Regions from separate parts of the Homo sapiens genome. Here region 2 is linked to region 1. The links come from fine-mapping of genetic effects on plasma protein levels. A gene starts in region 1. The other region holds a variant in brackets. All regions are shown on one strand. Distances are between the middles of the regions.

Region 1 (13,808 bases):
GAGTGGAGATTGCACCACTGCACTCCAGCCTGGGAGACAGAGTGAGACTCAGTCTCAAAGAAAACAACAACAACAACAACAACAACAACAACAACAACAAACAGAGGCCCAGAGGTGTGAAGGGAACACACTCCGGGTCTGGAGGGCCAGGGCCACTTCCAATTCTGGGGGAAGTTATTGCTGAAATTCTGTTTTCTTTCTTTCTTTCTTTTTTTTTTAAAGAGACAAAGTCTCACTGTTGCCCAGGCTGGAGTGCAATGGTGTGATCACAACTCACTGCAGCCTCAAAATCCTGGTCTTGGCTGGGCCAGTGGCTCACACCTATAATCTCAGCACTTTGGGAGGCCAAGGCAGGTGGATCACCTGAGGCCAGGAGTTCAAGACCAGCCTGACCAACATGGTGAAACTCCGTCTCTACTAAAAACACAAAAATTAACCGGGTGTGGTGGCGCGTGCCTGTAATCCCAGATACTCGGGAGGTTGAGGCAGGAGAATCACTTGAACCCGGGAGATGGAGGCTGTAGTGAGCCGAGATTGTACCACTGCACTCCAGCTTGGGCGACAGAGGGAGACTCCGTCTCAAAAAAAAATCCTGGGATCAAGCTATCATGCTACCTCAGCCTGCCAAGTAGCTGGGACCATGGGCATATGCCACCATGCCTGGCTGCGTTTTTGCATTTTTTCTAGAGATAAGGTCTCATTACATTGCCCAGGCTGGTCTTGAACTCCTGGCCTCAAGTGATCCTCCCGCATTGGCCTCCCAAGAAATTCTTACTAAACATTTACAAATGAGATGCCAAAACAGCACTTCAGTAATAGTGGTTATATTTTATAGTTCTCTACACAGAAAAAAAAATGCTGCTTGTAACACTCATAGACATGAAAGTATTTCTCTGCCTATTTAAATAATTCTGGATTGCAGTGAGCCACCAGGATTTTGGCAGCCAGATGTCACCATGATTTCTCATAAAACTGATGATGTTACATCAGTGGTGGCCTGAATCAAGATGCTGGGATGCCTGTAACCTACAGATTGGTTTCAGACTCCAAAGGCAACTTTTTTTTTTTTTTTTTTTTGAGACGGAGTCTGGCTCTGCCACCCTGCCACCCAGGCTGAAGTACAGTGGTGTGATCTAGGCTCACTGCAACCTCTGCCTCCAGGGTTCAAGTGATTCTCCTGCCTTGGCCTCCTGAGTAGCTGGGATTACAGGCATGCACCACCATGCCCAGCTATTTATTTTTTTTAGTAGAGATGGGGTTTCAAAATGTTGGCCAGGCTGGTCTTGAACTCCTGACCTCAAGTGATCCGCCCACCTCAGCCTCCCAAAGTGCTGGGATTACAGCTGTGAGCCACCGCGCCCAGCCCTGGCCTCTTTTTTTAAGTTATTTATTTATTTTTGAGACAGAGTCTCACTCTGTCGCCCAGGCTGTGGTGCAGTGGCATGGTCTTGGTTCACTGCAACCTCTGCCTCCTGGGTTCAAGTGATTCTCCTGCCTCAGCCTCTGGAGTAGGTGGGATTACAGGCACCCGCCACCATACCTGGCTAATTTTCTTTTTTTTTTTTTGAGACAAAGTCTTGCTCTTGTCCCCCAGTCTGGAGTGCAATGGCACGATCTCGGCTCACTGCAACCTCCGCTTCCCAGGTTCATGCAATTCTCCTGCCTCAGCCTCCCGAGTAGCTGGGATTACAGGCACATACCACCACGCCCAGCTAGTTTTTCGTATTTTAAGTAGAGACAGGGTTTCACCATGTTGGCCAGGCTGGTCTCAAACTCCTGACCTCAGGTGATCTGTCTGCCTCGGCCTCCCAAAGTGCTGTGATTACAGGCATGAGCCACCGCACCCGGCTGACTAATTTTTGTATTTATAGTAGAGACAGGGTTTCACCATGTTGGCCAGGCTGGTCTCGAACTGCTGACCTCATGATCTGCCCGCCTCGGCCTCCCAAAGTGCTGGGATTACAGGCGTGAGCCACCGTGCCCGGCCAGTTTATTTACTTATTTTTAAGAGGCGGGCGTCTTGCTCTGTAACCCAGGCTGGAGTGCAGTGGTGCGATCATAGCTCACTGCAGCCTCCAACTCCCGGGCTCAAGTGATCCTCCTGCCTCAGCCTTCCAAGTAGGTGGGATTACAGGAACACACCACCATGCCTGGCTAATTTTTTGTAGTTTTTGTAGAGATGGGGGGGTCTCACTATGTTGCACAGGCGGGTCTCAAACTCCTGGGCTCAAGTGATCTTCCTGCCCTGGCTTCCCAAAGTGTTGGGATTACAGGCATGAGCCACCGCGCTCAGGCAAGGCAACTTCTGACAATATAATTGTGCTGTGAGCGAGGTAAAGCCAGGCTTGGAGAAGGCTCCGATTGATGATCCTTGGGTCGGGGCGAACAGTGGGTCCTCAAACAGGGCCCACGTTTCAAGTCCTGGAAAACCCACCTATCTTAGCGGGCAGGTATATCCGATGTCTCCGTTGAAGGCCTTCAGTGAGGTGGCTTCGTCTCTTGAGGTTTATGTCCAGGATCAGGGCTGCTCTTCCACTCGGGGTCACAACCTCTGGCTCACCACCTTGTCAGGAGCCAGCCCACTAAGTCACGTTTCAGGCCTGAAAACCAACAACAAAAGATCCGTAAAGACAGAAATCCTGGGACTGGCTCCTAACAACGGCCAGTGACAAGCTTTGTGGCAGTGAGCAGAGGTGTCCCTCAGGCTCAGCTCAGTCTCTGTGGGTTGCAGGACCTGCCCTTGGAGGTGGGCCTGGGTGGGAGGTCTTAGGGCCCCAGGACCTGGGCCACCTGGGGCTTTTTTTTTTTTTTTCTTTTTGAGATGGAGTCTTGCTCTGTCGCCCAGACTGGAGTGCAGTGGTGCAATCTTGGCTCACTGCAAGCTCCACCTCCTGGGTTCAAGCGATTCTCCTGCCTCAGCTTCCTAAGTAGCTCGGATTACAGGCGCCCACCATCATGCACGGCTAATTTTTGTATTTTTAGTAGAGGCGGGGTTTCACCATGTTGGTCAGGCTGGTCTCAAACTCCTCACCTTGTGATCTGCCCACCTCGGCCTCCCAAAGTGCTGGGATTACAGGCATGAGCCACCGCGCCCAGCCCACCTGGGGCATTTTTGTTGCTGTACAATAGAAACAAGTTCTCTATATGTTCCCCAGGCTGGTCCAAACTCCTGGGCTCAAGTGATCCTCCCACCTAGACCTCCCAAAGTGCTGGGATTTCAGGCATGAGCCGCAGTGGCCGGTCAGAACCTGGGGCCCTTTTGAACTTTGATTCCTCAGCAATTTTGTCAGCCCTGGCTCGGGCTGAGAAGCCCCTGTGAAGCCAGAGAGGGAAAGGGACCTGTCCAGGGTCACACAGGAATCATGCGTCAAGCCTCCCCAGCCACGGACTTGTCTCCATCCAGGGCATTTCAGCCCCTGCAGGGCAGTGGCCTGCCCCTCCTCCTTGGAGCCAGGAAGGGATGCAGTGCCACAGGGATCTGGCTCTGTCCCAGGCCCTGTGGGGCTGGCAGTTGAGTAAGCAGTCAGGCTGGGCGCACCCATCCCTCCCCCACTCCCCACTGCCCAGCACAGTGCATTCATGCAGCTGGGCCCCACCCCATCTCCAGAGGCACCTTCCACTAGCAACAGTCTCCCCAGGCACAACACAGCTAACACAAGGCCCCGCAGGCAGGACTCTGGGACAGACGCAGGCCAGGTGAGCATCTGAACAAGGGGCAGTCGGCCAGGGTGGGCTTGCGGGAGTCCCCACCTTGACCTCTCTCCCTTCCAGCTGCCCAGAGCCCAGACCAAGCATGGACGCCGTGGATGCCACCATGGAGAAACTCCGGGCACAGTGCCTGTCCCGCGGGGCCTCGGGCATCCAGGGCCTGGCCAGGTGAGCTGTCCCCTCTCACCTTCCTGACCCCGGCCCCTGAGACCACTGTTCCAACCGTGTCCCCTGCCTCCAGGTTTTTCCGCCAACTAGACCGGGACGGGAGCAGATCCCTGGACGCTGATGAGTTCCGGCAGGGTCTGGCCAAACTCGGGCTGGTGCTGGACCAGGCGGAGGCAGAGGGTGTGTGCAGGAAGTGGGACCGCAATGGCAGCGGGACGCTGGATCTGGAGGAGTTCCTTCGGGCGCTGCGGGTGAGCCCCCACCTCACAGTCAAGGCGTGTGCCCTGGGCATGGGGCGACAGAGGATGCTGAGATGCGGAGACGGGGACTCCTCCCTAAGAGCTGCTGTTAAGAGGCGCCTGCTGGGGCATACAGCCCCAGTGCTCTGCACAGCGTCTTGGGGGTTTGGGTGTGCTACCCACCACCCCCAGTCACCACCTCCTGTCCCAGCCCCCCATGTCCCAGGCCCGGGAGGCTGTCATCGCAGCTGCATTTGCCAAGCTGGACCGCAGTGGGGACGGCGTCGTGACGGTGGACGACCTCCGCGGGGTGTACAGTGGCCGTGCCCACCCCAAGGTGCGCAGTGGGGAGTGGACCGAGGACGAGGTGCTGCGCCGCTTCCTGGACAACTTCGACTCCTCTGAGAAGGACGGGCAGGTGGGTGGCTGCGCGGGGGGCCCCCTCCCCAGGCAGTTCCTCGGCCGTGCCCCCTCACGGCCCTCTGTTCCCAGGTCACACTGGCGGAATTCCAGGACTACTACAGCGGCGTGAGTGCCTCCATGAACACGGATGAGGAGTTCGTGGCCATGATGACCAGTGCCTGGCAGCTGTGAGCAGCTCCGGCTCAGCCCTGCTGCCCTGGCCTGTCACTCCCCACCCCTGCCGGAGACCTCCCTTCCCTGGGCCCCTTCTCTCCTGGGCAGCCACACCACAGAGCGGGGAGGGGCAGGTGGGGGAATGGAGGCTGCAGGACTGGCTAGACCAGGTCCCTGCCGGTCCACCAGGCGGAGGTGGGACAAAGGTCCTAACAGGAGTCACTGGCTCAGGACCCCAGGGAGAAACGCTCTCCCCACCCACGCCATGCTGACCAGAGATCTTGCAGCCCCTGTGGATGCCCCCGCCGAGGTCCCCCGATCCCCGCACCCGGACTGCTGCTCCCTGCCCCTCCCTTGCGGGTCCCCCAGGAAGCCAGGTGACCCCAGGTGGGAGGCTGTGTGTGGAGGCCATCCTGGAAGGAAGTTTAGACCTGCCCAGGTGTGGAGCGAGGGGCACAGGGGCATCCTAACCTCAGAAACTGAAATAAAGCCTTTGAAAAAAAAATCTGTAAAACATCAACCCCCAATCAGAAGATGGCAAATGGGGAATAAAAATAGCAGGTAACATGTCCAGCGGGCCCAGTATCTACATTCTGGTGAGCGGCCCGAGGCTGGGAGCTCTGGGCGGGGGCAGACCGGCGGGGCCTTGCAGCAGGGGTGGGGGTAAAGTGCGGGTGGTGGTGGAGAGAACAGGGCTGTGGCTGGACCCCAGCACTGGTGACACGCTGGGTGGGAGCATGAGGCCCCAGGCTGCTGGAGGTCCTCGCCCGGGGAGGTGGAGGCCGTTCCTGGTCAGGGGCTTCCTGAGGCCCCTGGGGCATGCAGAGGCCAGGGTTTTAGTTAAAAGTTTAATGTAGTTCCCAAATACATTTCATATGACAATCTTACATAAATGTTCCAAAACACATGGGCGTTATCTCGTTGTACTCGTCACTAGCTGGCTAAGGCTTAAAGCAGAGACGTGTGACTGGGTCTCTCGGGAGGGCCTCTGGTTCTTCCCGGGCTCAGGCTTGCTGGGGGCTGGGGGCCAGGGCTCTGGCGACCTAGAGGTGTGGACGGCACAGCTGCAGGAGGCCTTCTCTTAACCCTCCGAGAGTGGGACTGGGAGATTTCCTCTGAAGTCCCAAAGAGGCCCTGTGCCCAGGGGACCTCCTCCTCGGCCTCCCAGGTGGGTGGTGCAAGCTGGCTCTTGGCCATGCTCCAGGCTCGGGTGGGCACAGGCGTCCACTCCAGTGTGCTGCGTGCTTGTGAGACTGCCTGTTCTGGGACCAGCCCCTGGGCTCTTCCACCAAGATTTGGTGAGGGTCCCCCTCTGCCTCTCACAGAAGCCCCTGGCCCTGGACTGTCCTGGGGGCAGGGACACCTGTGGCTGGGGAAGGGATGGCCAACAGCGGGAAGCAGTTTGCGCCTGGTGCCTGATGATGGTGAACCACGTGACAGATGGAGACGGGAGTCAGGGGACCCTGGGGACCCTTCCAGGTCCAGTGACCTTTTCCCAGACAGGCACTCTCCAGGCCTAGGACAGACAGGGCCCCAACTCCTCATCACCCCATGACTTGGCCTGGAGGAACCTGGGGTGGGAAACAAGTAGTCCCCCAACCTCAGAGGCCAGAACCACAGGTGGGGGACAGGGACCTCGACAGAGCTGTGCCTGCTCAACGCTCGAGAGCATCTTAACCTAAGAAACCAAAACAAAGCCTTCGAAAATAAAAAGAAAAAAAGATGTAAAATATACACCCCCAATCAGAGAGGGGAAGTGGGAAATGAAGATAGTAGTTAACAGCACGTCCAATGGGCCCAGTGTCTACACTCGTACGAGCAGCCCCCCAAGCTGGGCGGGGGTCCCAGGCCTATAGTTGGGGAGCCCTGGGCAGGGGCAGAGGGCTGGCTGCTCCCCACAAAGGCAGGGCCCCACAGCAGGGTGGGAAGGGTGTGGGTGGCGGAGAAGCCAGGGGCTCTGGCTGGACCCAGAGGCTGGCGACACGCGGGGTGAAGGAACGAGGTCTCCAGTCCCAGTGAGAAGCCGTGACAAGTCTTAATGTGCCATTTCAATTCAAAGGAGGGGAGGGAGGAAATGTTCTTGTTTGTTCGCTCATCAATATGATGAGGTCTCGTGTCCCAAACCACATTCAGGCAGTTCCCGAGTCTGCTTTTGAACAGGACGTGCGGGTCCAGACTGTGGCCGGCCCAGTGGGGTGTGTGGTTCCCGGCCCCGCACCTGGACGCTGCCGGTGGGGTGGGGGCGGGTGGGCGGGTGGATAGACGGACAAAGCAGCAGCCTGGTGTGCAGCCGGGCTCCCGGCCGCTATGTGCTCCCGGTCGTCTGCCCGTCCCCTTCGTCACCAGCACCTGCAGGGAAGCAGCAGCCCCGCATCAGGATGGAGCCCGCACTTCCCAGGTCTGGCCACCCCCGCCAGGAGATCAGCACTGGATCAAGGATGGCGGGCAGCTCTTTCTATCCCCCCCAGGGTAGGGACCACCCGACTCACCAGCTGCGGTGGCCCCTGAAGGAGCCAGGACATCGTCATCGTCGCTGTCGTCCTCCTCGTTGGATGGGGCTGCCCCAGGCTCAGGCGCGGGCATCTTGGCCTCCTGCTCCTGCTCCACGCGGCTGCGCAGGGCCAGGATGCGGTGGTGCAGGGCTGCATACAACTGACCTGTGTCCTTGGAGCTGGCCTGGGAAGGGAGGAGGGTATGAGACCCCCGGACCCCAGTCCTACCCCCTCCTGCCTTCTGCAGAACACAAGTGCCAAGTCCCAAGGTTCAGAGGTGACACTGCCACAAGGCCTTGTGGGGAGGCCATTGGCCCTGGGCCTGCCGGCCTCTCCCCGAAAGGATGCCACCACTCCCAGGTGGCTGGGAATATCCCAGAGGTCAGGGTTGGTGGACTCGACTGTGACACCATGACATAGGAGAGAGGTGACCGCCCCACAGGGCTGTTAGCCCTGAACACATCACAACCCCTCAGCCAAACCCCAGCGGCTTCTCTGGGTTGAGAAGAGGACAAGGACCATGATCTCTATTCCTGAAGGCTGGGACTGGCGGGTCCCATAGTGCTTCTTGTGTCCCAGGAAGCAACTGAAGCCCCTCCCCCCTCCCCTCCCCACCGTCCTGCCTGATCTGTGTGCCCAGGAACCCCCACAGGGCTGGCAGGATGAGGGGTCCCAGATGCACCCGCGTGGCTGGCTCACCGAGATCAGGAAGACCTTCACGCCCTGGTCCTCGGTGTCCATGGCTGTGATGCGAATGCTCTTCTCGCTGGCCTTGTCGATCTGCATCTGGGCCCACAGCTTGGTGTTGAGGATCAGTCGCAGGCTCCCCTGGGTCCGCATCACTACAACCAACAAGGCCACTCAGCCCTGGCCCCCACACCGGCCCCCTCACAAACAGCCAGCTCCAAGAGCCAACACAGTCCAGATGGAAAGCGACATCACCGCGCAAAAGCCCATGATCCTCCCAGGACCCACCCACAGAGCAAGACTTCTCCCTGAGGCCAGCCCTGGCACACCTGCTCCCGGGGCGGGGCTCCTCCTCCCCAAGCCTGGACCACTGAAGGCCACAACTGCAGGTGGCTGCACAGGCTGGTGCTGCAGATCAGTGACCAGAGGCCACATGCAGCTTGTGGGAGGTTGTGTTTGGTCCACACAGGTGGGCACCAGGATGGCAGTTCCCTTGGAGAAGGGGGGATTAGAGAGGAGTACGGGGTGGGCTGCGGGAGGCAGGGGCTGACACTCAAGGTGCATGCGCTTTCTGTGTGTGTGAGACATCGGCCTCCATGGGAGTCCACGTCCTCCTGACTGGCCTCCCCTGAGTGGGCCAGCCCTGCCCTCTGGTTTCCTTAGGAGAAGGCAGAGTAGGACCGCAGCTTAGCGCTTCCATGGAGAGGAGACGAGAGGACTGTGGGCAGCAGATTACGGAGGAAAATGGGAGGGCCCTGACTCTTCTAGAGGATGCAACACCCCTGCGCCTGGCCTGGGCCCACCCCGTGGACTCAGCCAAGCCCCTACCTTCCTGCCAGCCGCCTCTCCCCACTGGAGCAGGCCTGGAGACGGTCAGAAACTTGTCCCCCTGCCCTGGCCCAGCGAACAGACCTCCCTGAGCCCAGGTGCCCACCTCAGAGGCCGAGTGGGAGAAAGACAGAGGTGATTTTGCTCTCCCTGAAGCTGGGGAGGGTACTGCTGCCACGGGGCTACAGGCTGATGACCCAGGCAGAGGGGATGACCTGGGGGCTCAGGGCTCTATGCCCTCTCTTTCCATGGACATTTGAACATTTCCACGAGACAAAAGGAAAAACACAAGAAGACGTCCATAAGGCTGGGCACAGTGGCTCAAGCCTGTAATTCCAGGACTTTGGGAGGCCTAGGTGGGCAGATCACCTGAGGTCAGGAGTTCGAGACAAGCCTGACCAATGTGGAGAAACCCTGTCTCTACTTAAAGTATAAAAAAATTAGCCAGGCTTGGTGGCGGGTGCCTATAAGCCCAGCTGCTCGGGAGGCCGAGGCAGGAGAATCGCGTGAACCTGGGAGGTGGAGGCTGCGGTGGGCCGAAACGAAGCCACTGCACTCCAGACTGGGCAACAAGGGCAAAACTCCGTCTCAAAAAAAAAAAAAAAAGACGTCCATGGGGAACAAAAGAGCAGTCCCAGCCTGCAGGGACATCCCCTGTCTGTTCTGACCAGAGCAGTGTTTCTGATTGAAGTGCATGAACACTACCCTTCAAGGGGGCTGCTTGAGTTACTGCTGGGCCTGAAACCCATATTTATGAAAAGGCCAGAAGACACTTTGATTTGGGAAGATAAAACAAAAAGATGGTCCCAGCGCAGTGGCCCACGCCTGTAATTCCAGCGCTTTGGGAGGCTGAGGTGGGAGGACTGTTTGATGCCAGGAGCTCAAGACCAGCCTGGGCAACACAGGGAGACCTGTCTTTATAAAGACAAAAATAAAAACATTAGCCAGACGTGGTGGTGCATCTGTAGTCCCAGCTACTCAGGAGGCTGAGGTGGGAGGATCACTTGAGCCCAGGAATTTGAGGCGATGATCACACTGTATTCCAGCCTGGGTGATGGAGTGAAATCAGCTTTAGAAGGAAAAAAAAGACACGCCCACATTTCAAATGTGCACACACACAGGCTGATTTCCTTAAGTGGGTGTGTGTATGCAGGTACTCCAAGCTAAATGTCCACCAATAGGGAAAAGTCCATTGACTGTCAATGGAATATTAACATGAAAGCTTTTCAAAAACAGTATATTTTATTTTTTTTTGAGATGGAGTCTTGGTCTGTCGCCCAGGCTGGAGTGCAGTGGCTCAATCTCGGCTCACTGCAATCTCCGTCTCCCAAGTTCACGCAATTCTCCTGCCTCAGCCTCCCGAGTAGCTGGGATTACAGACATGTATCACCATGCCCGGCTAATTTTTGTATTTTTAGTAGAGACAGGGTTTTGCCATGTTGGCCAGGCTGGTCTTGAACTCCTGACCTCAGGTGATCCGCCCACCTTGGCCTCCCAAAGTGCTGGGGTTACAGGCGTGAGCCACTGCGCCTGGCCAAAATTTGTCTTTATCAAGAGATTAGACTTGATGTTTGATTTCATTTTCCTTTCTATCATAAACCTGCCACTTTGTCAGAAAATCAGCTTAAAAACTTCCATAGACTTTTGTCCATTTTGACACTAAGAGGGTCACGGACGAGCTGGCAGCTGGAGCCAGTGTGTGAGGGTGGTGTTGAGGGCTGGGTGCAGGGAGGGGGTTTGGGGGGCGGCTCTCATGGGAGACCGACTCTGTGCCTTGACTCTCACAAGGGTAGGGTCAGGATCTCCCCCGCTTCATTCCCTTTGGAATTGCATAGTCCCCAGCCCTCCCCATGGGGACCCGGCCACAGCCCCCGCCGTCGGCAGCTCACCTAGTCGGGACTGTAGTGTGCCGTCATCGGTGGACGCCATGTCATTGAGTCTGAGCAGCCCCCGGCCTCTCTCCACCCAGGACTGTGAGGTCTTGTCAAAGACAAACAGCTTGCACTGCATCTGGAACACAGTGGCCGCCGGTAAGCAGGGACCCCAGCTGGTGTCCTGCTGCAGCCACACCCTGAGAGTCGCCCTTTAGCCTGTGGGGACTGCCAGGGCCAGCCAACGACGGCCTGGGGGCCACCTTGGTCAGTTTTTTGTCCTGCCCTCAAGCTAGAACAGGCTTTACATTGTATAAGGGGTATCTGAAATTAAAAGAATCACTAAGGAAATGAAAAGCAAAACAACGGTGAGAAGCCTCTCTGCGCACTCTAGGACGGCTATACCCATGTGGGGAAGCTGGAACCCTCACACACTGCTGGCGGGAAGGCCGCATGGTGCCACTGCTGTGGAAGAGTCTGGCGGCTCCTCAAACTGCTTAACAAGGAATTACCACATGCCCAAGCAATTCCATTCCTCGGTATGTACCCAAGAGAAATGGAACATTTGTTCGTGTTCACACACAGATCGCACATGAACGTGCACAGCACCATCATTCACGGTAGCCAAGTCTCAAGGAGGAATGGAGTGACACACATGGTCCGCCCCTACAGCGCATCTCACTCAGTCTTAATAAAGAACAAGGCTCCGACCCCCGCTGCAACGTGGATGAACCTCTGGCTCAGCGAGAGAAGCCAGACACGAAAGGCCACATAGTGCGTTGATGCCATTTATATGAAATGTCAAGGACAGGCAAAAAACAGAGACAGGAAGTGGATCTGTGGCTGCCAGGGGCTGGGGAGGGAGGAGGAGTTACTGCGAATGGACAATGCTCTTTCTGGGGGAATGGGACAGTGTTCTTTTTGGGGGCAGAAATGTTGTACGTTAGATTCTGGTGAAAGTTGTCTGACTCTGTGAATATACTAGAAACCACGGAATTGTATGCTTTAAAAGGATGGATTATATAGCATTTGTACTATATTTCAATACAGCAGTTTTGTATATATAAACAAAGAAAAATACGAGACAGACACCCCTACATGGCTTTCCACATACCCCCTAAGTCAATCTCTTTCAACATGAACAGATGACAAAGTGGTAAGTGGGAAAAAAGAACAGTGCTCTTAAGAACGCCACGATACGCCACCCGGTTTACAGACACAGACACCTGCTTATGTGCCACGGGAGAGGAAGCACATGGATGCTGCCCAAGCCGGGTGGTGCGGCCTGAGGAGCAGGAATGGGGGATGCCAGGAGGGGACGGTGGGGTGGAACCTCTGGCCGCACCTGATCTTTTCCCTACGAAGACACCACAGGATGCCAGGTGACAAATAATACAGTTGCCAGCTCTGGGCGACAAGAGAATATGTTTGGTATGACAGTCTTTGTCATTCCCTGAACCATCAAAAATGTCTCGGGCTGGGCGTGGTGGCTCACGCCTGTCATCCCAGCACTTTGGGAGGCCGAGGCGGGTGGATCACATGAGGTCAGGAGTTTGAGACCAGCCTGGCCAACATGGGGAAACCCCGTCTCTACTAAAAATACAAAAATTAGCCTGGCGTGGTGGTGCACACCTGTAATCCCAGCTACTCAGGCGACTGAGGCACAAGAATCCCTTGAACCCAGGAAGCAGAGGTTGCAGTGAGCCGAGACTGTGCCACTGTACTCCAGCCTGGGTGACAGAGTAAGACATTGTCTCAAAAAAAATTAAAACAAAACAAAGAATGTCTCAAACAGATCCTCCTCCTCTGAAACCAAAGACATGCAAGAAGCCCCTGAGCCTAAGCTCTCTCTACAAACGCCACCAACAAAGTCCCAGAGCGTGGGGCCAGTGGCCCCTCCGTCATCTCAGGGGCAGGCCTGTGTGCTCAGAGGATGTGGGCCCAGCCCTTGCGGTTGGACCCCCAGGTGCATGGAAGACCCAGGGCCACCGAGGAGGGGCCGGCCCCTCACCTGTAACACATTGCTCTCCGCCTCCTCCCCGGTGATGACTTCCACTTTTTCCAACAAACACTTCCGCGCTGTTGCCTTGGTGTAGGCGGCTGCCGACTCAGCCAGGGACTCTGAAAAGTTATTGGCCAAAAAGACTGACTGATTATTTGGCGAGAGGAGAGCCATCTCCCCTCATCCGACAGGAGATGAGAGGGTTGGTTCTGGTCTCAAGGACGCCTGCTGCCCCTGGCAGGCCTGCCCCGGCAACCCAAGTGGACCCTAGACACAGCCAGAGCATATGGCCTCAGAAGCTGCAGGGAGACCATCTGGGGGCCAAGTGTGGCCCCAGACTCTCGTGTTCGTGCCGAGCAGTCGACGGGGGGACAGTGAGGGACTCCTCCACGCCTGCTGCCTGCGCCTCCCCACCCTCCCCACGGCCACAAGGCGACACAGGCCCTCGAGTTCTTTATCACAAACCCTTGCTCACTGCAAGGCAGGGCCCTGGAGCTGGTTCACATGTGGTTGTTACTGCTGCGGGAGTCGGGCCCCTTATCCCTCCCGGCTGGGGGTGTGAATGGACCCAGCATCCCCCAAGATGACCTACCATGAGCCCCATGCTGTGGTGGGACGCTAACATACCTTTCTCAGGGGTGGCCTCCTGGGACGAGGACTCAGACCCTGACTCGGCAGCTGCATTTTCCCTGTTGGCATCTGAACTGACCTCGTTTAATTTTGGGGGGCTCTGCAGGGACACAAAAGCATACAAGGAAGAGGGCACTTGTGTGGTCCTTCAGCAGCAGCTCTGAGCACCTCTCTGCCTGGCCCCCAACACTACGCTGCCCCCAGCACTCCTGCCCACTCCCGGTGACACCCTGAACTGCCTGGGAGCTCCCCACGTGGTCCCTCAGGCATCACTACGGGGTGAGTGCCACCAGCCGACAGTCCCCTCGAGCCACACTGGTCACTCCGTCTGGGTGAGGCAAGACTTTGAACATTTCATTGAAATAGAAAAAGCACAGCGTGGCCACGAAGGAAGAGAAGCTGCAGAGTACTTAATGCAGCCTAACTCCAGACAGAGCTAGAGTGACCAGGCGGCTCAGGACAGGCCCTCACGCAGTCGCAATGGAGCTGGGTGGAATCAGGAAGAAAAAGGAACATGTGTAAAGAGGTAGGCAAACCATTCTAGAACCCTCTCCCAGGCTGGCTGGGCTCCTGGGAACGGAGATGGGCCTTTCGTGCACCCAAGGCC
Region 2 (16,080 bases), 20 kb after region 1:
TTGGCTTTCTGCGCTGTGTGCCCCCTGCTCACACCGACTGGTGCTAATCCCGGGTGGGTGGAGCCCACAGAGTCACCTGAGATGGGGCAGGCAAACAGCAAAATGTTTCTGACTACAGGGTATGTCTATGACCTGGCGGAGCCTGCTTAGAGGATTCGCTTAAACTGATAAACGAATCCCGAGGCCTGTAACCAGTCTGAGACTCTGTGTGTGTGTGGGGCGGGAGGGGAAGCCTCTTCCCCACTTTCCCAAAGACGGTACCAGGAGTTCCCCCATGGGTCGCCCCCAACATCTAAGCCCTCCTTAGAGGAGATGCCTCATAGCTCACGTTCCCGATGAGCAGTGTGTGCCATGTTCATGGGCGGCTTGGAAAAGCTCGGACTCCTGCTGTAGGGCCAGAGAAGGATACACACAGCGAGCCTGGCGAATCTCAACAGTACTGGGTGTGGTCAGAGGGCAGCGTGGGTGTGGCCGCATGGCTCCACCCCAGACCCACATGGAGCAGTGGCTTTGGAGCCAGACGCAGGAGCTGGGAATGGCAGCCAGCACATCACAACTTCTGAGCTCAACCATTTGGGAACAAGCTGTGTGCACTGCTGAGAAGGGGCTGGAACCGGCAGGAAGACGGACTCCGTCCCCTGGGATGGGACACAGCAAGGCCTCTCCAGTGAGGAACAAGCTCTCGGTAGCGGGTGCTACCAGGTCAGCCTGTGCACTCACCATCGGGGACAATCAGAGACACTGGGAGATGGCGGGACGGGCTGGGTCACTTCTAAGTCCTTCTCCAACTCAGAACTGCACACCTGATCTGCTCAGGAGACCTCAGCAGTCAAAGCTTCCAAGCCGCAGAATGCGGTGGAAATGATCCCTATTTCCAATTCAGCAAACTCGTTTGAAAAAGGGCGTGAGGATGTTTTCAAATTTAATTGTGGACAGCCATTTTCACCCTTTGAGCCAGAACATCTACTGGGGATGGAGGGTATAAAACTGCAGGCCATGGACACAGAGCGGAAAATAAACACAAAGATCCAATCTGGCTTTTACACAGAAGATACCACATGGTGTTACCCTAATTCTGACTTCAAACCCATCTCTGCCAACTTCAAAGGAGGCTCTTCATCAAAGGCCCTTATTTCACAGTGGCTGTGAAACACAAAGCTTTTGGCCCATATAATCCAAACCATACCCCCGCTTAAATGGAACTATTTCTTTTTTTAAGGCAGGGTCTGGCTCTGTCGTCCAGGCTGGAATGCAGTGGTGTGACCTCGGCTCACAGCAGCCTCCCCTTCCCGGGCTCAAGCAATCCTCCAGCCTCAGCATCCTGAGTAGCTGGGACTACAGGTACATGCTACCATGCCTGGCTAATCTGTGTATTTTTTGTAGAGACAGAGTCTTGCTATGTTGCCCAGGGTGGTTTTGAACTCCTGGCCTCAAGCAATCCACCTGCCGCGGCCTCCCAAAGTGCTGAGATTGCAGGTGTGAGCTACCGTGTCCGGCCTAAACAAACTATTTCTGAGATGACTCCCAAAGAAAAATTTTCAACTGGAACCACACAGATAGGAGTCTCTGAGGGGTGGTTTGGGTGTGGACACAGAGAGGGGAGACATTCCTCATGTTAAACATTGCAAGACACCCATCAGTGACAGCCGTTCCTCGGGCCCTAGTGACTCCTCAGAGTGCAGTGGTTCAGGTCCTCCCTCAAGGATCACTCCCGTGAGACATGTGGCGGTCAGCCTTGGGTAACAGGCCCTTCCGGCAGAACTCTGGGCAACAGGTCCTTCCGGCAGAGCTTGCTTGGGAGACACTCTTCTTCTGCCTGACCAGCAAGACCACCCTTGGGAATCTAGATCTGGTTTGTCAGGTACTGTTATTTAGAGCCTACTGAGCAAATCCAGAGAGCCTTACAATAGGCCCACGTGGAAACTGCTTGGAACAGGTGACAGCGTGTGGACTCCACAGCATGCTGGGAAGGCTGCCCTCCCGCTCCCAAGGGGCCTAGCATGCAGCGCTTCCCTGCCTCAGGACCCACTGACCTCAAGTGCACACACCTCATCGGCAGCTTCGGAAGGACTTCTCCATGCAGCAGTGTCAGGGGATGCTGCGGGCACTGCCCCCGTGCAGTCTGCTGGGAGGCTGACCCCGTTGGTGCCACTGCTGGGGACTGTGGGAGGGAAGGAGAGTGGGGAATCACAGGTGCTTGGCGGCCCTCCCACCCCCACTCACATAGCTGAGGGGCTGGGCCACGTCTAGTCTAGGGCCCCTCCCATGGTAAAGCCCACAGCACATGTCTCCTTTTTAAGGAAGGACCTGGTATCTCTACAAAGAGCCAAAATTCTTGGATTTAAAAAAAAACAAGAGAAACAAACAAAAAAGAGAAACCTGCCGGGCACAGTGGCTCATGTCTGTGGTCCCAGTGCTTTGGGAGGCTGAAGCGGGGAGAATGCTTGGGGCCAGGAGTTTGAGACCAGCCTGGGCAACACAGCAAGTCCTCGTTTCTAAAATAAGATAAAACAAACTGGCTGGGTGTGGTGGTGCACACTTGTGGTCCCAGCTACTTGGGAGGCTGAGGTGGGAGGATCGCTTGAGCCCAGGAGTTCGAGGCTGCAGTGAGCTATGATTGCACCAGTGCACTCCAGTCTGGGTGACAGAGCAAGACCCCATCTCCAAAATAAATAAATAAATAAATAAATAAAATGACCTTTCAAGTTTTTAAAGATAACCTGTGAAAATTGAGGCTGAAATTCTATCTGCAAACACACAGGGATAAATCTCATTCCCAGGAGCCGGCCTGCTTTTATGAAGACAGTGAATGAACAAAGCAGGTTTCACCCACACAGTCACACTCAGCCGAGAGCTGTGAGGAAGCTGTGGAGCCGCCTCTCCCTTCTCCGTTGCCAGGGCTCAGGAGGCTTGGGGCTGGAGACGGCTGGGGGGTGATTTAAAGGATCATCTTCCCTGATCTCTCTGTATTTCTGGTGCATTCAGCAGTCACCTCTGTCGCAACACTGCTGTCCCGGGTGCGACTTCGGGAACGCTCTACCCTGCCGTCTGGGCCTGGGCGCCAGGGCTGCTGTTTCTTACCAGTCTGGGACAGCGCCTTTGGCTGCGGAGCTTGTAACACTGCCGGGCGAAGCACGCTCCGCTGCTGCTCCTTGGGCTTCTGGCTTGGCAGACCTAGGAACAGAAGGCGGCCTTCCCAGTGCCCGTGGACCCCTGCCTGCCCCCAGGCGCTTCAGAGACTGACCCCTGGCATCCCATTTCATGCCCCTTGCAGGCTAGACTTTGCAGGGAAGCACTTTTTTAAAAACTTGAGGTCTTTTTTTAACAGCTGGCCAGGAGATCTGGCTACTGTTATTTTTACATGTGATTACATGAAACTCCCAGTGACCGACGCCTGTGAATTAATCCAGTTAGCACAGTAACGTGGCGGGGCGCCGGCAGACTCAACAGTCAAGTGGAGACTGTGGGAGGAGAGCAGTGCATTCACAGGCAGCTACCTGGAGGCTCAGGACTCGGTGTGGGGTCACGTACAGGCACATTTTGCACCTGTTTTTCAAAACAGCCATGCTGAGGAAGTCCCTCTGCCAAAGGCAGATGGGACAAGGACCCTTGCATGTGCCCTGCCCTGTGCAGCATCCCCGGCAGCCTCACTAGCAGCCGGCTCACTAGCAGCGCGCCGCTGGAATGCAGCCACCCTGCTAACTGGGGCGAACACTGTGGTATGTGGGGGCCAGAACATGAAGGACAGACAGGCTGAACCAAGTGCGCTACTGCTGGGCATGGAGCCCGCCCGATGCACCCCGCCTAGCCTGCTCCCGTGCCACCACTGCCCACTTTTCTGAACACACGACGCTCACAGTCAGGGGTCCCAACCTCCCTGCTCAGACAGCCTCTCTTTAAAGGAACTTTCCAGGGCTCGTGGGTCAAGTTACAAGTGATCTTTCTAGAAAGCAGGCTGAGCCCGCGGTGCCCTGGTGTGGCCTAGCAGAGGTCTGAAAAACGTCAGAGAGCCACCCCCCGCCCCAGGGAGGTAGACGACCTACCTGCGCTGGGGGCTTGGCCGTGGATCAGCGTTGGTGGCTTCAACCGGAAGCCACTGCTCCTTTCCTCTAAAAGCACAAGACAAAATATCAACAGCAGGCCTGCCTGGGCTGGGGCTGGGCCTGGGGGGCAAGGGCAGGAGAGGACTATGGTCTTGGCCTCAGTGACTTCGGGCCTGGAGAACCAGGGAGAACATTTCCAAATTACAACAGAAGTCTCGTCCGATCAGCAGGCCTGGAAGGCGCCTGGAGGAGGGGAGAGACAAGGGCAGGAGGAACGATGGCTCTTGGGCCAGCTGCTGACCATGGGGGCAGGTGGGGCGTCAGCCGCCCTCCCAGCTGTCTATGACCTGCTGCAGGCTCAGGAGCCGAGCTGCTCAGCGGCCCTGTACCTGGCTCTGGAGAATGTCAGGGAGCCACGGAACACAGGCGCTCAGGCCCCACTTCCCTTTCCTAGAAGGCTTGTCTGTCAGAGGATGCGGCTGTGGCCAGGAAGAACCTTGGCACCACTACAGATGTCTGGGAAGTGAGACAGGTTTTTGTGATGAAAAGGTCAAAGGTGGCACACAGTGAGCCTGCCTCCCCTTTCCAGATGTGCCTGCGGAGCTTCCCGTCTCAGTGAGGGGGCACTCCTGGCCACCGTGGAGGAGGCCAGCTCCCCCTGGGCCAGAGTCCGGGCTGACAAATTCACAAAACTAGAGGGAAAGGTGAATGCCCACGAGCTCCTGGGATGGCTCGAGAGCCCAGCCTCGCCCAGCCACCTGTCCACATGGACCCCTTCATCTGTGTGTCTTGGCAACTGTGCCCATACAGGGAGTGGGGATGGTGGTCTAATCTGATCCACAACAGGAAGGATTGTCATAAAAGGCCTGTGACTCAGGCAGGCAAGCCTGTTCCTGGGCAAGGCACAGAGACTGTGGCATTATGGCTCCTGGAGGTAGCCCTGCGTTTGTGCTAAGCTTCACCCCCTTGTCAAGCTACAGGACACAAGATCAATATACAAAAATCGATTGTGTTTCTAACACTAGCAGTGAATGACCCAAAAGCAAAATTAAGAAAATAATTCCATTTACAATAACACCAAAAGGAATAAAATACTTGGGAATACATTTCACAAGATAAAACTATAAAACAATGTTAGGGCCGGGTGCAGTGGCTCATGCCTGTAATCCCAGTGCTTTGGGAGGCTGAGGCAGGAGGACTGCATGAGCCCAAGAGTTTGAGATCAGCCTGGGCAACACTGCAAGACCCTAACTCTACAAAAAATTAAAAACTTAGCCAGGCATGGTGGTACATGCCTGTAGTCCCAGCTACTCAGGAGGCAGAGGTGGGAAGATCACTTGAGCCTGGGAGCTTGAGGTTACAGTTGAGTTACGACTGTACCACTGCACTCCAGCCTGGGCGACAGAGTGAGACCTTGTCTCAAACAAAACAAAAACATTGTTGGAAGAAATTAAAGGTGTAAATCAAAAGAAAAACACCCCCTCATGCTGTCTGATTGCATTTCTGTGAAATGCCAGACTAAGCAGAAAGGAGCTGAGCGGTTACCAGGGCTCAAGGGAGGGGGTTGGGGGCAGGCTGTGACTAACAGGGATGAGGTTTCTTTTTGGGATGATGGAAATGTTCTAAAATTAATCACGTGATGGTCGCACAACTCTGTGGATGTACTAAAACCACTCAATTGTACACTAAAACGATGACAACAAAACCCAAAACACCTTGTCAGCCCAAATTTTCAGACTCCAAATCAAGATTCAGCAGGCCAAGGAAGACCCCTCTCCCGCTGTGCCCCGGAGGCGCCGCTGTGCCTGGGCAGCAAGAGGATTGCAGCAACCCTTCTTACTATAATAGTTGTATGAGGGAGTCCAGCCCCAGGGGCTTCTGGCAGCCTGTGTTAGCAGAGCTGGTGCCTCTCCCGTAACAGACTGGTCATAAAAAAACAAACTCAGGAGAGCCAGATCCTGCAGGATGCGGGGGTGAGCCGCCAGATGTTCCTTTTCCGAAGGAAACACTCAATTACATTTCCAAAGCACGGAGCTATGCAGAAGACGACTGGCAATTTAGATACATTTTTAAAAGGTCAAATTCACAATTTAGATAGTTTTTAGCAAGCTCTTCAAGCTGGCTCTCCACGCTGATGTTTTGGTCACAGACTGACTACTGCCCTTCCACACTCCGCTCCGTGCAGCGCTGGCGCTAACGCTGAGGGGAGCCTGGGGGCTGGCCCGAGCTGCCAAGCGGAAGCAGGAGACTTGGATAATCCCTGCCACCGACCTGCCACTAGTGCTAGGCCCAGAGCGTGGCCCTCTCCAGAGCTGCAGACAGACAAGGCGTGCTCCAGGGGTAGCCAAAATCTGGAGGTCCCTGTCACAGGCCCTGCTCCACGAAAACAAGGGTGGTCTCTTCTCATTCCTTCCAGAAATTTTCTTCTGCAACACAGGTCGCAACACAAGCTGCTGAATCATGGCCAGAGCCCGACGCCTGCCACATACCCAAAGGGTGTGGGCCTGTAGAGGATGCTGCACCAGTCTCTGAGGGATGCGCATCACTCCAGAGAGGAAGAGGACCCCTCCCGCCGGCAGCCTTTGCCCTCCTGGGAAGCTGGCAGGCTCCCTGTCTGAGGGTGCTTTTCGCCTGCCTCAGAGAGCCCCAAGTGATGTCTGTGGGAAGCCATGCTTGCCCCCCAGGGAGCCCCGATTTAACCAGGGAAGGGATGGGAATGAGACTGTGTGCATCAAATGCTGAGAAGGCAGCCTGGCTGGAGCTGGGGTCTGTGCGTGGACGGCGCTGGTGCAGGGTGGGGAGGAGGCTCAGCCATGCGGTGGGCAGGGAGTGATGCCTGATGCACAGAGGACAGAGGGTGCCGGTTTCTTAGTGCCAGAAGAGGGAGGAATATACCAAGGGAGGCACCCACGTGCCCCTGGCGTCATCTCCACATGCAGGCAGGCAGGCAGAAAGTAAGAGATCATGTGGACAAAGGTGTGTCCCCAGCTCTGTCCGTCATCTCCACATGCAGGCAGGCAGGCAGGCAGAGAGTAAGAGATCATGTGGACAAAGGTGTGTCCCCAGCTCTGTCCGCGGAGGGCCGGGAGCAGGGCTACACCTGAGTCAGTGAGATCGCAGTACCGCACGGAGTGATTTCAGACCTTGGTTTCTAAAGACCATGTTCCCTGAAGAACCAGCGTGCCTCTGAGAAATGCAGATTCCAGGACTGGGATGAGAAAAGAGGCTGAGCCGGGAGGCTCTTGTTGTGACAAAGTAAGGGCAGTGCTCAAATGAACAACGGGGACCTGCCTGACAGGGCTTCCACTGGCCAAATCTGGGACAACCTGAACATTAAATAAAAACCAGTAACCATAGACGGTCACCCACTGATGCCAACAGAAGCTCGCCTGTCTATGTTGACACAATCGATCAAGGAACAAGCACGTGGGGAGAAGGGCAAGCTCCTCCTTCCAGTGAACACCACTAATCAACGCGGCAGGGATGGTGCTCAGAGTATCCCACGGGTGGTGAGTGCCTGTAATCCCAGCTACTTGAGAGGCTGAGGCTTGAGAATCTCTTGAGCTCAGGAGGCAGAGGGTGCAGTGAGCCAAGATTGTGCCACTGCACTCCAGCCTGGGCAACAGAGCAAGACTCTGTCTCCAAAAAAAAAAAAAAAAAAAAAAAAAAAAGGAAGAAAATCCCATGGGGCAGTCGTCAGCGGGAAACATCACTCTAAAGACATCACTGGGCGCGAACACTGGAGGGCAGGAGTGTGATGAGGTACACACAGTCCCAGAGTCTAAAGTGTCTCTCAGAAACCATCCAGCACAAA[G/C]GGGAAAGTAGCTTTACAGTGGTGAAACCTGGCAGACAGCACCCTGATCGAGGAGCACGGCCACCCCGTGCTGGTAAGGGGACAAGTGAGTACTGTGCATGGCTTCTGTGACATTCTCATCCAAGATGCCACACCTGGGTCTCACCACCAGGACATACTGGACAGGCCCCAACTGAGACACTTCTACCCAACAGCTGACCTGTAATCCTCAAGGTCATGAAAGTCAAGGGAAGCCTGAAGACCTGTTCCCGATAAAAGTGGAGGTATGTGTGGTAGGACCAGGGTCTCAGTCCTTTTTTCTAATGGACTCATGGAGCTGACTGGAGAAAGCTAAATGGGGTCTTCAGACAAAAGGGACAGAGAAATTCTTCTGTAAGTGTTAAAGCTTTTCAAAATTAAAGCTAAAAAACAGAAGGCAGGCAGACAAGGATGTGAAGTTGGGTTTGCAGAACTGATGTGTGGCTGATATGACTGCCTTTTCATGCGTGAGGGCACTGGGGCTTTAAACCATGCCGCGTCGGGGCCTGCGAAACAGCTGCCCTGCTCGAGGCTGGAGGGGAAAGGTCTGTGGGGAGAGAGACAGGAGGGAGGCCGTTGCTCACAGACCTCAGAAGCGATCATGAGATTTGTAACAGAGCTCAGCAGCACAAATGGGTCCAGACACACGGCTTTAGTAACTGATCACCTAAAGCAGAACCTGCCTCACCGTGGCAGGCTCTGTGCCCCCATCCAGACCACCACCTGCTAAGCGACACCCCAGGAATAACCAACATCGTGCCCTTCCTGAGGACCCTGAAACACCAAGCCCCTCTGCAGGATGAGACCAGGTGGTCGGCTCAAAACAGTTTGCTTTTAGAGTCAAAATGCCTTGTTGAAACGGGGCCATCAACTCAATGCTGAGAGTTATAAGAACCCACCTCTTCCCTTGACACGGACATCACGCCAGCAGCTAACTTATCTCACAATGCTTTTGAAGTCGGCAATGAATTTATATATGGTAGGTTGGGTTACAGAATTCAGGTTGTTAAACTCGCTTGTTAAATCTTTTATGAGGAATTTCAGCCACGTGGGAGAAACTTTCAGGAAACCTTGGAGTTGGTTCTCCAGTGAAAGACCAAAAAGGCAGGCTCCATATTCTTCAGAAAGGGGGAGCGGCTTTCCTTAAAATTTTAAAGCTGGGGGCCAGACGTGGTGGCTCACGCCTGTAATCCTAGCACTTTGGGAGGCTGAGGCGGGAAGCTCGCTTGAGGTCAGGAGTTCGAGACCAGCCTGGCCAACACGGTGAAACCCTCGTCTCTACTAAAAATACAAAACATTAGCTGGGCATGGTGGCACATGCCTGTAATCCCAGCTACTTGGGAGGCTGAGGCAGGAGAATTGCTTGAACCCAGGAGGCAGAGGTTGCAGTGAGCCAAGATCGCCCCATTGCACTCCAGCCTGGGGGACAAGAGTGAAACTCCGTCTCCAAAACACACAAAAAGTTTTGAAGCTGTGATTAAACATATTTATCTAGGTAGGTCTGAGCAAAATTAATGTGAGAATGCACAAAAAAGAGGTCTAGAAATTCACCAACTTCACAGGCGTTACCTTTGGGATGGCAGGGTGAGTGGGGAAGGGGCAGGGATTCTTTTTAGTTGAAATATTTCTGATTTACTTTAAAGAAAAAACAATTATGGGCCAGGTGCGGTGGCTCATGCCTGTAATTCCAGTACTTTGGGAGGCCGAGACAGGTGCATCACCTGAGGTCAGGAGTTGGAGACCAGCCTGGCCAACAGGTGAAACCCTGTCTCTACTAAAAAAATACAAAATTACCCCGGCATTGTGGTGTGCGCCTGTAATCCCAGCTACTCGGGAAGCTGAGGCAGCAGAATCACTTGAACCCGGGAGGCGGAGGTTGCAGTGAGTTGAGATCACACCACTGCACTCCAGCCTGGGCAAAAAGAGTGAAAGTCTGTCTAAAAAACCAAAAAACCCCAATTATGAATGCATTACTTGTATAAAATTTTGAAAAATGAGTGATACATTTCTTCACAGGTTGTTTTTAGAGGACTTAGAGCTCCATGCAACCAGGCCCTGCTTGCAGAAACAAACATGAGGGCTTATGAAGCCTCATCTCACGCCAGATCCCCAGACTATGAGCTGAAGAGTTGGGGGAAAAATTTTAACAGCTGAAGAAGAACTGACTTTAAATGCCCGCTGAAGATCTGATTTTCCCACACCAATTGCTTTTCCTCCCAGGAGAACCCCCAGGCCGGGCGGGAAGGCAGAGGGGCCGGGGCTCACTTGGCTCTGAGTCGGAATTGCCTGCAGATGGCTCGCAGAAGCTTGATGGCATAAAAACATTGTTTTTTGAAACTGTTGACAAGGAGGTGCAGGCGGGGGAGGGAACAAGAGGAAAAACAGCATGAATGGGTGGGGTGGACGCTCAGAGATCACCTCTCCCACCTGAGGGGTGGATTCTCACGTCCCACGGGAGGAGACGGAACAGCACGCAAACAGGGCATTCAGTCTTTCCCGAGAACAGCAAACCCCAAGACTCTTTACAGCACTACGAGGGTCTCCAGCCCGACGGCCTTGATCTGTCTGATGACTACAGTCAACTCTGGTCAACTGGGGGCACCCCCTTGTCCCTGCACCTCTGCAGGGGCAGCCGGCAGGGGAGATATCAGATGCTCCAGGCCACATTGGAGGCCCTGACTCCTCCTCACCTGTCAAGGCTTGTCCATGGGGTTCCCCCTCCCCCACCTAAGATCTTCCTTCACCAGGGCAACTGCTTCCCAGGGTGTGGGCCAGCCAACAGGTTTCCACAAATGAAGTGGAATTCGTAGGGGAAGAACTCACTCTACGCAGAATGGAACCAAAGACAACACTGTTCAAATTATTGGTGCCCCTCACGCCTCCAGTTACCCTGGAGAGCTGAGTGTCTCTTGGGGGCTGCTGCGCTGGACGGGAGGTGATTTGAAGAGGGCCGGGGAGAAGAATGGTGGTCCCTCGCCTCTTTAGCCTACATTCACAGCCCAAACACCTCCTCTTCTCTATGCTGGTTTTCGATACAGCAAGCATGGTTCAGCAGTGGGCAGTGAGGGGGAAGGAATAAAATCAACGAGCAGGAAGTGGAGCTCCCTCATTCCACAGAACACCTATCCACAGGTGCAAAGATCCTTAAATTAAAAGGATGCCAACTGCAGCCTGGACTGCAAGCCATCTGGACAGTTCCGCAATATCCAGTCAGCAGATGACAGTGTAATAGCACTGGAAAACCTAATGCAGCTGTGCAAAAAGACGCGGCCATGTCCAAAACCAACGTGATGGGAAAAGGGCATGAAAACAAGGGTGTGGAGGGGTGACTTGGGAAGGACCCTGGCTTCCTACGCTGTGTGTTCCTGTAACGCATGCGTGACTTCTGTAAGCAGAAACAACTTGACATCCTGAAGGTTCAGGACTGTAAAATGATTTACATGAACTTTCCAGGAATGGATTTCAGTTGGGTAACCAGAGAACCTGTCTAAACACTCATGTATGTCCAAGTTGGCACTACAGACAGCTAAGACAGAGGCCACGAGACAATGCCAGAGTGGGAAGTCAAGACGGGGACGAGAGAATAGCCCTGCAGTGGCATTTACCCTCAAATCTGCAGAGTTGTGCCCATGGCAGGAGGCCGGGCTTTCTGAGTGTTATATTAAGTAGTGCTGACGGCATTATCTGCCTCAGGAACCTCTCTCCTGTACCAGCCTGCATGAGTCCCCAGGCCGACCTCCAGGCCTGTGCTCAGACCAGGCCTCACGTCCAGGGCCTTCAAGCCCTTTAGCCTGCCCTGCTCCACAGTCCGAGCCTGGCCCACCCTTCCAGGCCCCCGCAAGCTCCTCTCCTCTGGGAGTTCACAGCATCACACACGGGCCTCTGCTGGGGCCTCCTGGCTTGCTGGTTACCGTGTGTGTGTGCATGCTTGTGTGTACATGCGTGTGTGTGTCTGGGCTACTGCACTGGACTGCCCGTGCTGGGCATGCAGCTGAGGGGTTGGGAGAACACCCCACCCCTAAACCCCCAGTCTGTGTCCAGCCTTGGAAAGAGGAGATGTAATTAACAGGCAGAGGCCCCAACAGGGCTCTCAGTAGTCAACCCCTTTCCTCCATTTCAGAGGGACGATCTCTTCACAGTCTTCCTCAGGCCACCAAGTCTCACCATGCCGTCAGTGTCACTGATTCGAGACGAGGACCCCTGATGCTGCACTCTGGACAAGCTCTCACCTCACTCCTGACAGAGCCCGAGCCTCAGATCGACTCTAACCGGAGCTGGGCAGGAAGGACACAGCAGACGGATGCGCGGCACTGAGGGGAATGGCGGGTTTGTAAGCATAAACGCTTTCACCATTCCGTAAGTTTGCATATTTTACCTGACTGTGAGGGTGGGAACTGGGTTAAAGAGGATGTTCTTTCTCGCTTGACAGGAGGGCAGTAATTTCCATCTTCTCTGTCAGAATCTACAGAAAATGATGAGAAGAGGAGGAGAAAAATCAGGTTGCTTCTGTCTTTAAAACTGAAGATGGTCAAAGGTGTTAGAGAGCTCCTTACCTTCTCCGCCTTCAGGACTGGAGCCGCCAGCTGACCTCTGAAACAAGGAGCACACAGCCGGGGTCAGAGGGCATCAGGCTCACGGCAGCCGAGCAACTCTCGGGGCCGTAACAAATATCCCAACATGCACCACGGGCAGCTAGTTCCCAGAGCCCAGCACCCGAATGAGAGCCAGGATTTTAGCCTAAAGCTCAAACATCCCCCCGATGAACCTCTGCACCCAGCTTCACAAACACATGCCAAGGAATCCTCTCAGTGGCTGGGAAAGCATCCGCAGCACCCAGATCAGTTTCTTGTTTCTCCACAGGTTACGCTAACTGGCCTGCCACCCCTAAACTCAAACACAGCCGAACCTCATCTGGCCCCCGTTCATTCTGCCAAGAGCTGAAAAGCGACCCTCTCCACCCTTGAGGGCAGCGGACTTGTGTAAAATGGTCACATCACACCGGATAGGAGCGATTTCCCTTCCTTGCCCTGGAACATTCTACCATGCACATGCTTGTCTCAGGGTCGGCTGTTATTCCCAGAGCAAGCAAGAGCTTGGATGTTTTGGACCAAAGCCCACTTGCGAAGTGTTTAGAACAGAACCATCAAAGACAAAGCCCAGTCACAGGCTGAGGGAAGGCTCCTGAAGAATTCCCTATTCCACAAACTTTAGCTTTAGAGTGTGAACAACCAGCAACCAAGACTTAAAATGGGCTCATGACCAGCCTGACCAACATGGTGAAACCCTGTCTCCACTAAAAATACAAAAAAAAGTAGCTGGGCGTGGTGGTGCACGCCTGTAATCTCAGCTACAGGCTGAGGCACAAGAATCGCTTGAGCCCGGTAGGCGGAGCTTGCAGTGAGCCGAGATCACACCACTGCACTCCAGCCTGGGCGACACAGCGAGACTCTGTCTCAAAAAAAAAAAAAAAAAAAACAAAAGGACTTAAAATGGACTGGGTGCAGTGGCTCATGCCTGTAATCCCAGCACTTTGGGAAGCTGAGGCAGAAGGATCGCTTGAGCCCAGGAGTTTGAGACCAGCCTGGGAAACATGGTGAGACTCTGTCTTTATAAAAAACCCAACCACATAAAAATCAGCTGGGCAGGGGGGTGAATGCCTGTAGCCCCAGCTCCCAGGGAGGCTGAGGCAGGAGGATCACCTGAGCCCGGGGTCTGAGGCTGCAGTGAGCTATGACCATGCCACTGCACCCCAGCCTGAAGGACACATCTCATCTCAAAACACAAACAAACTCAAAACTTAACATGAGGAGTGTTTATCCTCTCCCCCAACACAATCCCTCATTTATGTCCTGTCTCAGAATTTAGCAGCCCAAAGCGCACCGATGAGTGAGGGCCGCTCCTCCTGGCGCGCTCCCTGCAAGAGCAAGCAGAAAAGCCAATTTTCTTATTTTCTAAAATGCTCCTCAGAGGTCAAGTTTAGCCAAATGAGGCCCGCCTGCCTCGACGAGCTGCTGGGGCTTAGGGGAGGTGATGCATGTGAAAGTGCTTTGCAAACTGCAGAGTGGCCTGGGAAAGCAAACTGCAATAAATAAAACTGAGGAGCACAGGAGCCAAGGCAGACCCCCCTCAAGTCAGGGCGATGCATTTTCCCATAAAGGGCCAGACTGTCGGTACTGCTGGCTTTGTGGGCCACATTTGGTCTCTGTCATATATTCTTGTTTTTGCTTTTATAATCCTTTAAAAATGTAAACATCATCTTAGCTTACAGGCCCAGGCCTGGAGCTTGTGGCAGTGAGAGCCCAGAGAAGGTAGGAAGTTGACTTGAAGTCACATAGCTCGTTCACGACGGTCAGAAAAAAAGCTACCCTGGACTTTCTCCTCCCGTGTGAGCTGACAACATGGGTTTGTGTGGGAAAAGCAAGCCTGGGCTTCTTGCTTGAGGCCCGTGTTCTGAGGGGGCTTTGGAAATGCTCCCAAGGGACTGTACGAGTGAGGGCTGATTATCACTATCCCCACGAGATGACATCATCAAAGTGTGTGGGAAACACAAAATCCTTGTAACACAACAGTGGGTTCTATTAGTCACTGGGGCAATTGTGAAAATACCACTGAGTCCAAAACGCAATGCCATCAAGCAGCCAGGCCCTAGAGTCAGTACCAACTCCGGCCAGGCCAAAAGCACGAGGGGTGCAGAGGCTGCCTGGTCCCTGCTGCCTCTTGAAGGCCGGAAGAACTCAGTGTATTCCGGCTCTGCCATTTTCTACGGGTGAAACCTTACCTTGCCCAGCCTTCGGTCTCCTCACCTGGAAAACAGGGATGCGTGAGGTGACAGGCAGGGCAGGTAAGGTGCTCAGCCCAGTGCCCTGCACGCTGGGAGCAGATGATTATAATGCTCGTGACCCACACCTGATGAGATCAAACTCCCAACCGATGTAAAATCTGGAGGCTACGCTGGGGGCAGGGCTTTAGAGCTCAAGGCAGGCATGAATAGGGAGTCAGGGGTGTGGAGTGAGTCCTGGGTGCAGCCAGGAGGCGAGGGACCTGGACTGGGAACCTTTCTAGAAATGCCAGAGCCTGGGGTTGCATCTGATAGTGCTGAGCTGTCACCACCTTGTCATCCCTTTTCTTGGGTGACATCTGTGGGGTGGGTACAGGCTCCAGCTATCGCTTGCCCTCATACTTAGCAAAGGTGACAGAAGTACAGAGAAGCAGCATCTGCCCACCCGGGCAGCCAAAACCTTTGCTCATCCAGCCAAGCCTGGGCATCTCATGCCTGGGGCAGCTACTGCCCTCGACGGGCCCTTACATCAGCCTCCCAGCACAGGCAGCTGTGAGAAACAACACCTGACACAGCCTCCTTGCCCTCTGGGTAACCCATGCCCTCCAGAGCCCTGTAGGCTGGCTTTGGCCTCCAAATGCTCTGTGCAGGTCACTGTCTGAGGCCAGCAGCCTCTGCACAGCCCGATCTCCTCGGACACCGCACTGCTCGCCTCACCTCTGGCTTCCCTGGCCTCACCAGTCCTCCCATCCATTCCTAACAGCAGGCCCAGGACATCCCCACCCCCAAGTCCCATCCTGTGGCTCTAGACTTTTCTCTCCCCTTTTAATCCAACGAGCCTTTCAACTGTACCAAAACCCTTACACGGTGTCCTCCCTGGTCCTGGGGGATCTGTCCCTTCCTAAATGACTTCTGGGACCAGGAGATGGCCATACCCTCTCTGGCCTCTGTAGACGACCTGCTCTCTCATCCAGTGACGCCCTCCTTTTCCCTCAAGCGAGAATGAACCCCTTGGTGAGGTGACCTCCAGGCCCCTTATACTCTTTCTCTGTGGCTTATTCTGATCCTGGGAGTTGTGTCAGGGACTCCACTAGACTTAGGAAGGAACTGGACCTCACAGTAGAAGCCCGTTTAGCATTTGTTCAACAAAAGACACTGCATCCCAGGCCCCTTGCAGGCCACGGAGAAGCCGAAGACCTGAGTCCGGCCTTACAGAAGGAACTGGTCCCCGAGCTCCCTCGTGTCTCCTCACCCCTGCACGGGATGTTTCTCCTGACATCTCCACACCTAACTCTCTGGCTCAGTGGTTATCTAGGTTAATTTCCACATGTGTCAATTTCCTAGTTTCCGTTTTTGATTTCCAATTTTATCTCCTTGTGGTTGGAGCACATACTCCATATTTTGATCCTTTAAAATTTGAGATGTGT

Alleles and levels. Positions count from the first base shown, and alleles are read on the strand shown. Strength reflects both the effect of a copy and how common the allele is.
In carriers of allele G in region 2, the plasma level of the protein whose gene starts at base 3,641 in region 1 tends to be lower than with C alone (moderate association).

The links. A credible set is the group of variants that fine-mapping cannot tell apart. PIP is the posterior inclusion probability: the model's chance that the variant is causal. The UK Biobank Pharma Proteomics Project read protein levels with antibody pairs (Olink). The fine-mapping took linkage between variants from a reference panel, not from the people measured, so its PIPs are less certain.
Region 2: its variant is the best candidate, but not a certain one, in a credible set for the plasma level of the CAPS protein (UK Biobank, PIP 0.57).

The regions. Positions count from the first base shown.
Region 1 is chr19:5,910,614-5,924,421 of GRCh38, forward strand. It overlaps CAPS (calcyphosine), which reads left to right and starts at 3,641. Exons shown (of 5, transcript NM_004058.5): 1 at 3,641-3,696; 2 at 3,772-3,876; 3 at 3,950-4,127; 4 at 4,327-4,533; 5 at 4,608-5,598. The coding sequence starts at 3,794. The coding sequence ends at 4,709. It overlaps VMAC (vimentin type intermediate filament associated coiled-coil protein), which reads left to right. Exons shown (of 2, transcript NM_001017921.4): 2 at 1-240. It overlaps RANBP3 (RAN binding protein 3), which reads right to left. Exons shown (of 17, transcript NM_007322.3): 12 at 13,199-13,301; 13 at 12,581-12,690; 14 at 10,588-10,708; 15 at 7,883-8,025; 16 at 7,181-7,367; 17 at 5,526-7,040. The coding sequence ends at 6,997.
Region 2 is chr19:5,929,371-5,945,450 of GRCh38, forward strand. It overlaps RANBP3 (RAN binding protein 3), which reads right to left. Exons shown (of 17, transcript NM_007322.3): 4 at 12,429-12,465; 5 at 12,251-12,337; 6 at 4,044-4,109; 7 at 3,082-3,174; 8 at 2,034-2,161. Among named protein-coding and RNA genes, the nearest start is that of CAPS, 23 kb to the left of the region's middle. RefSeq lists a silencer at 10,404-10,584 and an enhancer at 15,108-15,748. The variant G/C (reference allele first, on the strand shown) is at 7,858.